Homo sapiens: one gene and its partner. The protein of the gene in region 1 purifies or fractionates together with the protein of each later gene. This does not show direct contact. Each region holds a gene or a part of one and is shown in the gene's direction. Other genes may lie near its edges. The genes, in order: MPZL2 and OCLN.

Region 1 (3,823 bases):
GCCTCAGCTTCCCAAGTAGCTGGGATTACAGGCATGTACCACCATGCCCAGCTAATTTTGTATTTTTAGTAGAGATGGGGTTTCACCATGTTGGTCAGGCTGGTCTTGAACTCCTGATCTCAAGTGATGTACCTGCCTTGGCCTTCCAAAGTGTTGGGATTACAGCGTGAGCCACCGCGCCTGGCGAAACAGAACTAATTTTAAGAAGCCTAACAAACCCAACTCTGAGGTTCTAGTTTGAATAGAACCAATAAAGATGACTTAGGTCAACACAAAACTTTTTATTTTTTTTTTGAATAACAAATATAAATTAGAGGTGGGATACTAATGGTAAAATAAGGTGTCTGCTTTAAAACTCTGGAGTTCCCGAATCAGAACCCAAACTGTATTCCCTTACATTCTGAAAAGTCTCTAAGTTCAGAGGTGTGAATATTATTAATTAGATGGCACCAGTTTAGCTCTGTGTAAACTTCAATCTACTCCCAAGTGCATGTAATTCTTCCAAAAATATGGGGGAAAAATACCTTACCTGAAGCTTCTGTGGGATTTACCCACTTGCTTCTTGTCTTGTTCACCTGACATTTGGTTTCTGCTTGTTACAGAAAAGAAGAGGAAAGGCTCAACCAAGAGAAAAAGGTCTCTGTTTATTTAGAAGACACAGACTAACAATTTTAGATGGTAAGGTTCACAAATAGGTTGATTTCTTTCTTCAGCTTTCTGACATGTCCAGCCCATCTCTAATGAGGACTCCCAGATCATCACTTTATGGCTGTTAGGTGTTTCCCATATGAAATTAGAGGAGCTGGGTCAGGGAGACAAAAGTCTTCTATTAGTCTTATGGATAGCTCCTCCTTGAGTGTATTTTGTGCAAAAGATTAAGAAGCTGGACTCTACTGCCATTAAAGCTGAGAGAATCCTAAGGTTATTTGTGGCTTCGGGGTTATATTTATTACTACTACTACTAATAAATATTCAACAAGTAAATAAATCTTTTTTAAATCAAAAGATTAGTATCTGCTTATTCTTTTTTTTTAATTGTAAACCAATTATGGTATTAAGAGAGTGACTCAATAGACATATCTGGCAGTTTTTACAGGAGAGCTTTTGTACTATTTGGAATTGATTTCAACTCCTCTCATTTAGTTATTGGCACTAATAACTACATGAAATGAATCCAGTTTTAGTAGCGTATAATTTTATTTTTCCAGTTTTCAGGTTCATCAGGCTTAAAAAGTAGGATAATTTATTTTTCTTGTCTTTGTTTTTGAGACAGGGTCTCAACCTGTTGCCCAGGCTAGGGTGTAGTGGTGCGATCTCGGGTCACTGCAACTTCTCCCTCCCAAGCTCAAGTGATCCTCCTACCTCAGCCTCCCAAGTAGCTGGGACCACAGGTGCGCGCCACTACACCCAGCTAATTTTTGTACTTTTTGTAGAGACGGGGTTTCCCCATGTTGCCTAGGCTGGTCTCACCTGAGCTCAAGCGATCCACCTGCCTCAGCCTCCCAAAGTGTTGGGATTACAGGCATAAGCCACTGCGCCGGGCCAATTTATTTTTCATATGCTCAGAATTTCTCCCATTCTCTGAAATAGGTCCACACATTTAATTTCTAGATGTTATAAATCCGGACATGCAAACTTAAATTTTACGCTCATAAGAAAGTTCTTGATATTAATGACTTTATCCTGTAAAACTCTGGCTCTGTTACACGGGAGAACATTTTTTACAGACCGTTATTAGTTGCAAAGAGGGTCACATTTTTATAGGCTAAAGCTCCAGTGAAAGACCTCAAGGATTTATAAAATAGAATATGGAGTAAAATGATTGTATTGTAAAACCAGAAAACCAAAATTAACATTAGGGAGTTTTTACCAACCAACGGCTATTGTCTTTTTAAAGTTAAGGGGATTATCTAACAACTTGGGGTCATGGAAAATAAATATGGGAGATGTTTTAGATCAAAAGAAACTTAAGAGATGAACACAATCAAAGTGCAATGTGTGATCCCCAACTGGATGAATAATAGTGTGAACAAGCTAGTTGTAAAAACAAGCTTGGAGGGGCAATTGGGAAAGTCTTGAATATGAAAATGTTAAATATATGGATAATATTAGGGAATTATTGTTAGTTTGTATTAGGTATAGTGATGGTATTGTAGTTATAAAGAAAATGTACCTATTTTGAAAAATTCTTACTGGAGTATTGGGGTAAATGTCAGCAATTTACTTTAAAAGCATAGGAAAAAAGCAAATAAAACAAAAAAGGCTTCAGAATTAGGTGATGGGGGAGATGAGGGGAGAAAAGAAAAGAAAAGAATGAATTAATGAATTTAAGGGATGGGTAAATTCCACATACTCTGTTCTCTACTTTTCTATATGTCTGATTTTGTTTGTAATGAGAGTGAGAAGTGGGGAGAATATGGGATGTATGTGTGTGAACAAGTTGTGGGTCATCCAAGTGTCCATGCAAGGTACTTAGAGGCCATGATTTAAGGATACTAACTCTGAAAATTATGTAATAAGGATTAGGAAACTTCTTTTAAAAATTAAATTGGGGGAGAATATGAATACTTTCCCTCAGAATATTTTCCTTCTAATAACATATATGTAATTCATAATGCCAAGTATTCCTATTGTACTCTTCTCAAATATATTATCCATTTAAACTTTTGTTTTGTGTTTTAGGAAGCTGAGATGATTTCCAAGAACAAGAACCCTAGTATTTCTTGAAGTTAATGGAAACTTTTCTTTGGCTTTTCCAGTTGTGACCCGTTTTCCAACCAGTTCTGCAGCATATTAGATTCTAGACAAGCAACACCCCTCTGGAGCCAGCACAGTGCTCCTCCATATCACCAGTCATACACAGCCTCATTATTAAGGTCTTATTTAATTTCAGAGTGTAAATTTTTTCAAGTGCTCATTAGGTTTTATAAACAAGAAGCTACATTTTTGCCCTTAAGACACTACTTACAGTGTTATGACTTGTATACACATATATTGGTATCAAAAGGGATAAAAGCCAATTTGTCTGTTACATTTCCTTTCACGTATTTCTTTTAGCAGCACTTCTGCTACTAAAGTTAATGTGTTTACTCTCTTTCCTTCCCACATTCTCAATTAAAAGGTGAGCTAAGCCTCCTCGGTGTTTCTGATTAACAGTAAATCCTAAATTCAAACTGTTAAATGACATTTTTATTTTTATGTCTCTCCTTAACTATGAGACACATCTTGTTTTACTGAATTTCTTTCAATATTCCAGGTGATAGATTTTTGTTGTTTTGTTAATTAATCCAAGATTTACAATAGCACAACGCTAAATCACACAGTAACTACAAAAGGTTACATAGATATGAAAAGATTGGCAGAGGCCATTGCAGGATGAATCACTTGTCACTTTTCTTCTGTGCTGGGAAAAATAATCAACAATGTGGGTCTTTCATGAGCAGTGACGGATAGTTTAGCTTACTATGTTTCCCCCCCAATTCAATGATCTATAACAACAGAGCAAAGTCTATGCTCATTTGCAGACTGGAATCATTAAGTAATTTAATAAAAAAATTGTGAAACAGCATATTACAAGTTTGAAAATTCAGGGCTGGTGAAAAAAATCAACTCTAAATGATGATAATTTTGTACAGTTTTATATAAAACTCTGAGAACTAGAAGAAATTATTAACTTTTTTTCTTTTTTAATTCTAATTCACTTGTTTATTTTGGGGGAGGAAGACTTTGGTATGGAGCAAAGAAATACCAAAACTACTTTAAATGGAATAAAACCAACTTTATTCTTTTTTTCCCCCATACTGGTAGATAAAGCAAACTTTAT
Region 2 (3,823 bases), on another chromosome or scaffold:
ACAATGTAAATACTATGTAGAATTGTGATATTGTAGTTTTAAAAATCTATTTTTTGTTTTATTGTTTATTATTTTTTTAGACAGGGTATTACTGTTACTCAGGCTGGAGTATAGTGGCATGATCACTCCAGCCTCAACTTCCTCTGCTCAAGAGATCCTCCCATCTCAGTCTCTTGAGTAGCTGGAACTTACAGGGATGTGCCACCATGCCTGGCTAATTTTAAGAAAAATTTTTTGTGGAGATGGGGTCTTACTATGTTGCTGTGGTCAGTCTTGGACTCCTGGGTTCAAGTGATCTTCCTGCTTCAGCTTCCTAGAGTGTTGGGATTACAGGTGTGAGCCACTGTACCTGCCCTGTAATTTTTAATTTTTTTTTCCCCTGAATATTTTCTGTCTGAGGTTGGTTGAATCAGAATTTAAAACCCATGGATGTGGAGGGTCAGCTGTATTTGAAAATGGATACAATATACCTAAGTGCCTAAGCACTGAAATTTCTTACTTTCAGGATAACCACCTTATGATGAATGCAGTTGCCCATTTTCTTGAAGACTTTTTCTTGTGGTTTTTTTCTTTCTTTTTTTTTTGAGCCGGAGTCTCGCTCCGTCGCCAGGCTGGAGTGCAGTGGCGTGACCTCAGCTCACTGCAACCTCCTCCTCCTGGATTCAAGCGATTCTCCTGCCTCAGCCTCCTGAGTAGCTGGGGCTACAGGCGCGCGCCACCAAGCCCAGCTAATTTTTGTATTTTTTTAGTAGAGACAGGGTTTCACTATGTTGACCAGGATGGTCTTGATCTCTTGACCTCGTGATCCACCCGCCTCGGCCTCCCAAAGTGCTGGGATCACAGGCGTGAACCACTGCGCCCAGCTCTTTAAGACTTTTTCTTATCCCAGTGCAGAGGTCAGGATTATTCCCGCATTTGAGTGCACTTAGAGGAGATAAGGAATTTGTCTCAGATTGCGAGCCAGTAAATGGGGGCTGTTAAAACCACTAGGTTGTTTCAAACTCATCATTCTGACATTACAGAGATCTTGCTTAGTGTTGATGGCCCTAGCCAATGGGTTAGTTATCCTTTCCAGTGTGTTTGGTCAGCTGCAAATCTGGATAAGCGTGTCTCCTCCACTTTGTCTGTGTTTACCAGTGGAGACCTCCCACCAGGTGGACATAAATGGTTCATTCTTTTGTGCTAATTGGGTGCCGTAATCCAGCCCCTTGGGAATCTGCCCACCCACACAAGGATGTGCTCAAGATTTTCAGGATTCTTTCTCTCTGCATTCCCTGAAGAGGAAATAATAAAGGAGAAAATAAAATCCACCAGTTTGGTAACCTTCCCAGAAAAGGAAATGAAGTTGGTGTGGCATGACTTGTTCTTAACGAGCTTTCTTTTCTTTTTTTTTTTTTTGAGACGGAGTTTTGCTCTTTTTGCCCAGGCTGGAGTGCAATGGCGCAATACTGGCTCACTGCGAACTCCGCCTCCCAGGTTCAAGCAATTCTGCTACCTCAGCCTCCCAAGTAGCTGGGTTTACAGGCATGCACCACCACGCCCCTCTAATTTTTTGTATTTTTAGTAGAGATAGGGTTTCACCACATTGGTCAGCTGGTCTTGAACTCCAGACCTCATGTGATCCACCTGCCTCGGCCTCCCAAAGTGCTGGGATTACAGGCATGAGCCACATGATTTGGTTCACAATTTAAAATCCGTGCTTTTGGGGAGACGTGACAACTCTGAATCCTGGAAATAGCAGTTTGAAAAGGGATCTTGTTTGAATTTTTGACAACTTAAGACTGAGTCTGGATTAATTTAGAGTTTCCAAAACTACCACTGAACCTAGAATTTGGGGATATTTGACATTCAGCTTCAGAACTAGGATCCCACATTTAATAGTGCTTAACTTCAGATTTTCTGTTTTACTTTTTTTTTTTAAAGGAGTCTTGCTCTGTCACCCACGCTGGAGTGCAGTGGCACAATCTTGGCTCACTGCAACCTCCACCTCGGGCTCAAGCGATTCTCATGCCTCAGTTTCTCAAGTAGCTGGGATTACAGGCACGTGCCACCATGCCCAGCTAATTTTTGTATTTTTAGTAGAGACGGGGTTTTGCCATGATGGCCAGGCTGGTCTCGAACTCCTGACCTAGGGTGATCCACCTGTCTCCACCTCCCAAGTGCTGGAATTACAGGTGTGAGCCACCTCACCTGGCCTAAATTCAGTATTCCTTAATGTTCTTTTTCTGAAGACAATCTGGACTTTTGCCTTTTTATAGTACCATAACATTTTCGCCTAAATTGCTCATTTGTATGTGTGTTTCACCATTACTAGAATATAGAGAAATTGGCCAGGTGTATTGGCTCATGCCTGTAATCCCAGTACTTTGGGAGGCCAAGGCAGGTGGATAGCTTGAGCTCAGGGGTTTGAGACCAGCCTGGGCAACATGGTGAAACCTTATCTCTACTAAAAATACAAAAATTAGCCAGGCGTGGTGGCATGTGCCTGTAGTCCAGCTACTTGTGAGGCTGAGGCAGGAGGATTGCTTGAGCCTGGGAGGCAGGTTGTAGTGAGCTGAGATGATGGCACTGCATTTCATCCTGGGCAACAGAATGAGACCTTGTCTCAAAAGAAAAAAAAAAAAAGTATAGAGAAATTGACTTGAGTGCTAGTTACAGGGCTGTGTACACTTATGATTTGTGCACTTTTCTCTATGGTATACTTTAAAAGTGGCTTTTAAAAATGTAGAAAAGTCATCTTCCTTCATGTCTTTGGAAAATTATGCTAATTGTGTTGGTGTTATTAACATTCTATATATTTCCATCTTTGAGGATTTATCTAATACATAGTTGGGCAGGGTTTAATTCTGAGAGATTTGAAATACACTGTCCTAAAGGGTATAGAAGAGAGTTGCCAGGTGGGGCGTGGTGGCTCATGCCTGTAATCCCAGCACTTTGGGAGGCCAAGGAGGGCAGATTGCCTGAGCTCAGGAGTTTGACACCAGACTGTGCAACATGGTGAAACCCCATCTTTACTAAAAATACAAACAATTAGCCGGGCGTGGCAGCGTGCGCCTGTAGTCCCAGCTACTCGGGAGGCTGAGGCAGGAGAATCGCTTGAAGCCGGGAGGCGGAGATTGCAGTGAGCTGAGATCATGCCATTGCATTCCATCCTGGTGACAGAGCGAGACTCGGCTCAAAAAAAAAAAAAAGAGTTGCCATTAATTTAAAAAAAAGTTTTAAGAGTCTGAATTGATGTACTGTTGTTAATATATTAATGTATGATTGTACAGACCGTATTAGAAAAGGAAAAAAAATCAGATACTTTAATGTACTCATTATAGATGTTACTCAAGTGTCATTCAGGGATCATACCTTTTAAAGTTACTCTGATACTTTTCCGTTACCTTCAACTTGAAAGCACAAGAGGTTTTGCAGGCAGAGATATCCATGGTCCAATCTGGTTCCTGTAAACATTCAACAAATTATCTGGACGTCTACTATGTGCCAGGCATTGATTTAATCAGTGAACAAAACATGCAAAAATTCCTGCTCACATGGAATTTACCTTCCAGTAGATCTCAAAGTTCCCTACTCTACTAATCACTGGTATAACCTGGAAAGAATTTATTGTTGGTTCAACATAGCTAAGGAGTGGCATGAAGTTCTGTAGCTGATGTGGGAAGTACCTTGCCAGTGTCTCCAGCACTGGGTTTTCTAGAATAATCCTCAAGCTTTATAGGTTAGGGGGTTGTGTGTTTACCACATCTTGCTGAGACTTGTCTTTTTCCTGGAGAGCTCTCAGTGCCCATGGATCCACCTACGGACGTAGGCAGATGACCTC

Evidence for each region.
Region 2: the proteins of MPZL2 (region 1) and OCLN purify together in Homo sapiens (affinity purification with mass spectrometry, with the first as the bait; one large-scale study listed by BioGRID). This does not show direct contact.

What each region holds. Positions count from the first base shown.
Region 1 is NC_000011.10:118,254,093-118,257,915, reverse strand, and holds part of MPZL2 (myelin protein zero-like protein 2 precursor), read left to right. Parts: intron 1-602; coding exon 603-666; 3' UTR 667-678; exon of another isoform or gene 679-1,005; intron 1,006-2,682; 3' UTR 2,683-3,823. UniProt on the Homo sapiens protein: Mediates homophilic cell-cell adhesion.
Region 2 is NC_000005.10:69,499,020-69,502,842, forward strand, and holds part of OCLN (occludin), read left to right. Parts: intron 1-3,823. UniProt on the Homo sapiens protein: May play a role in the formation and regulation of the tight junction (TJ) paracellular permeability barrier.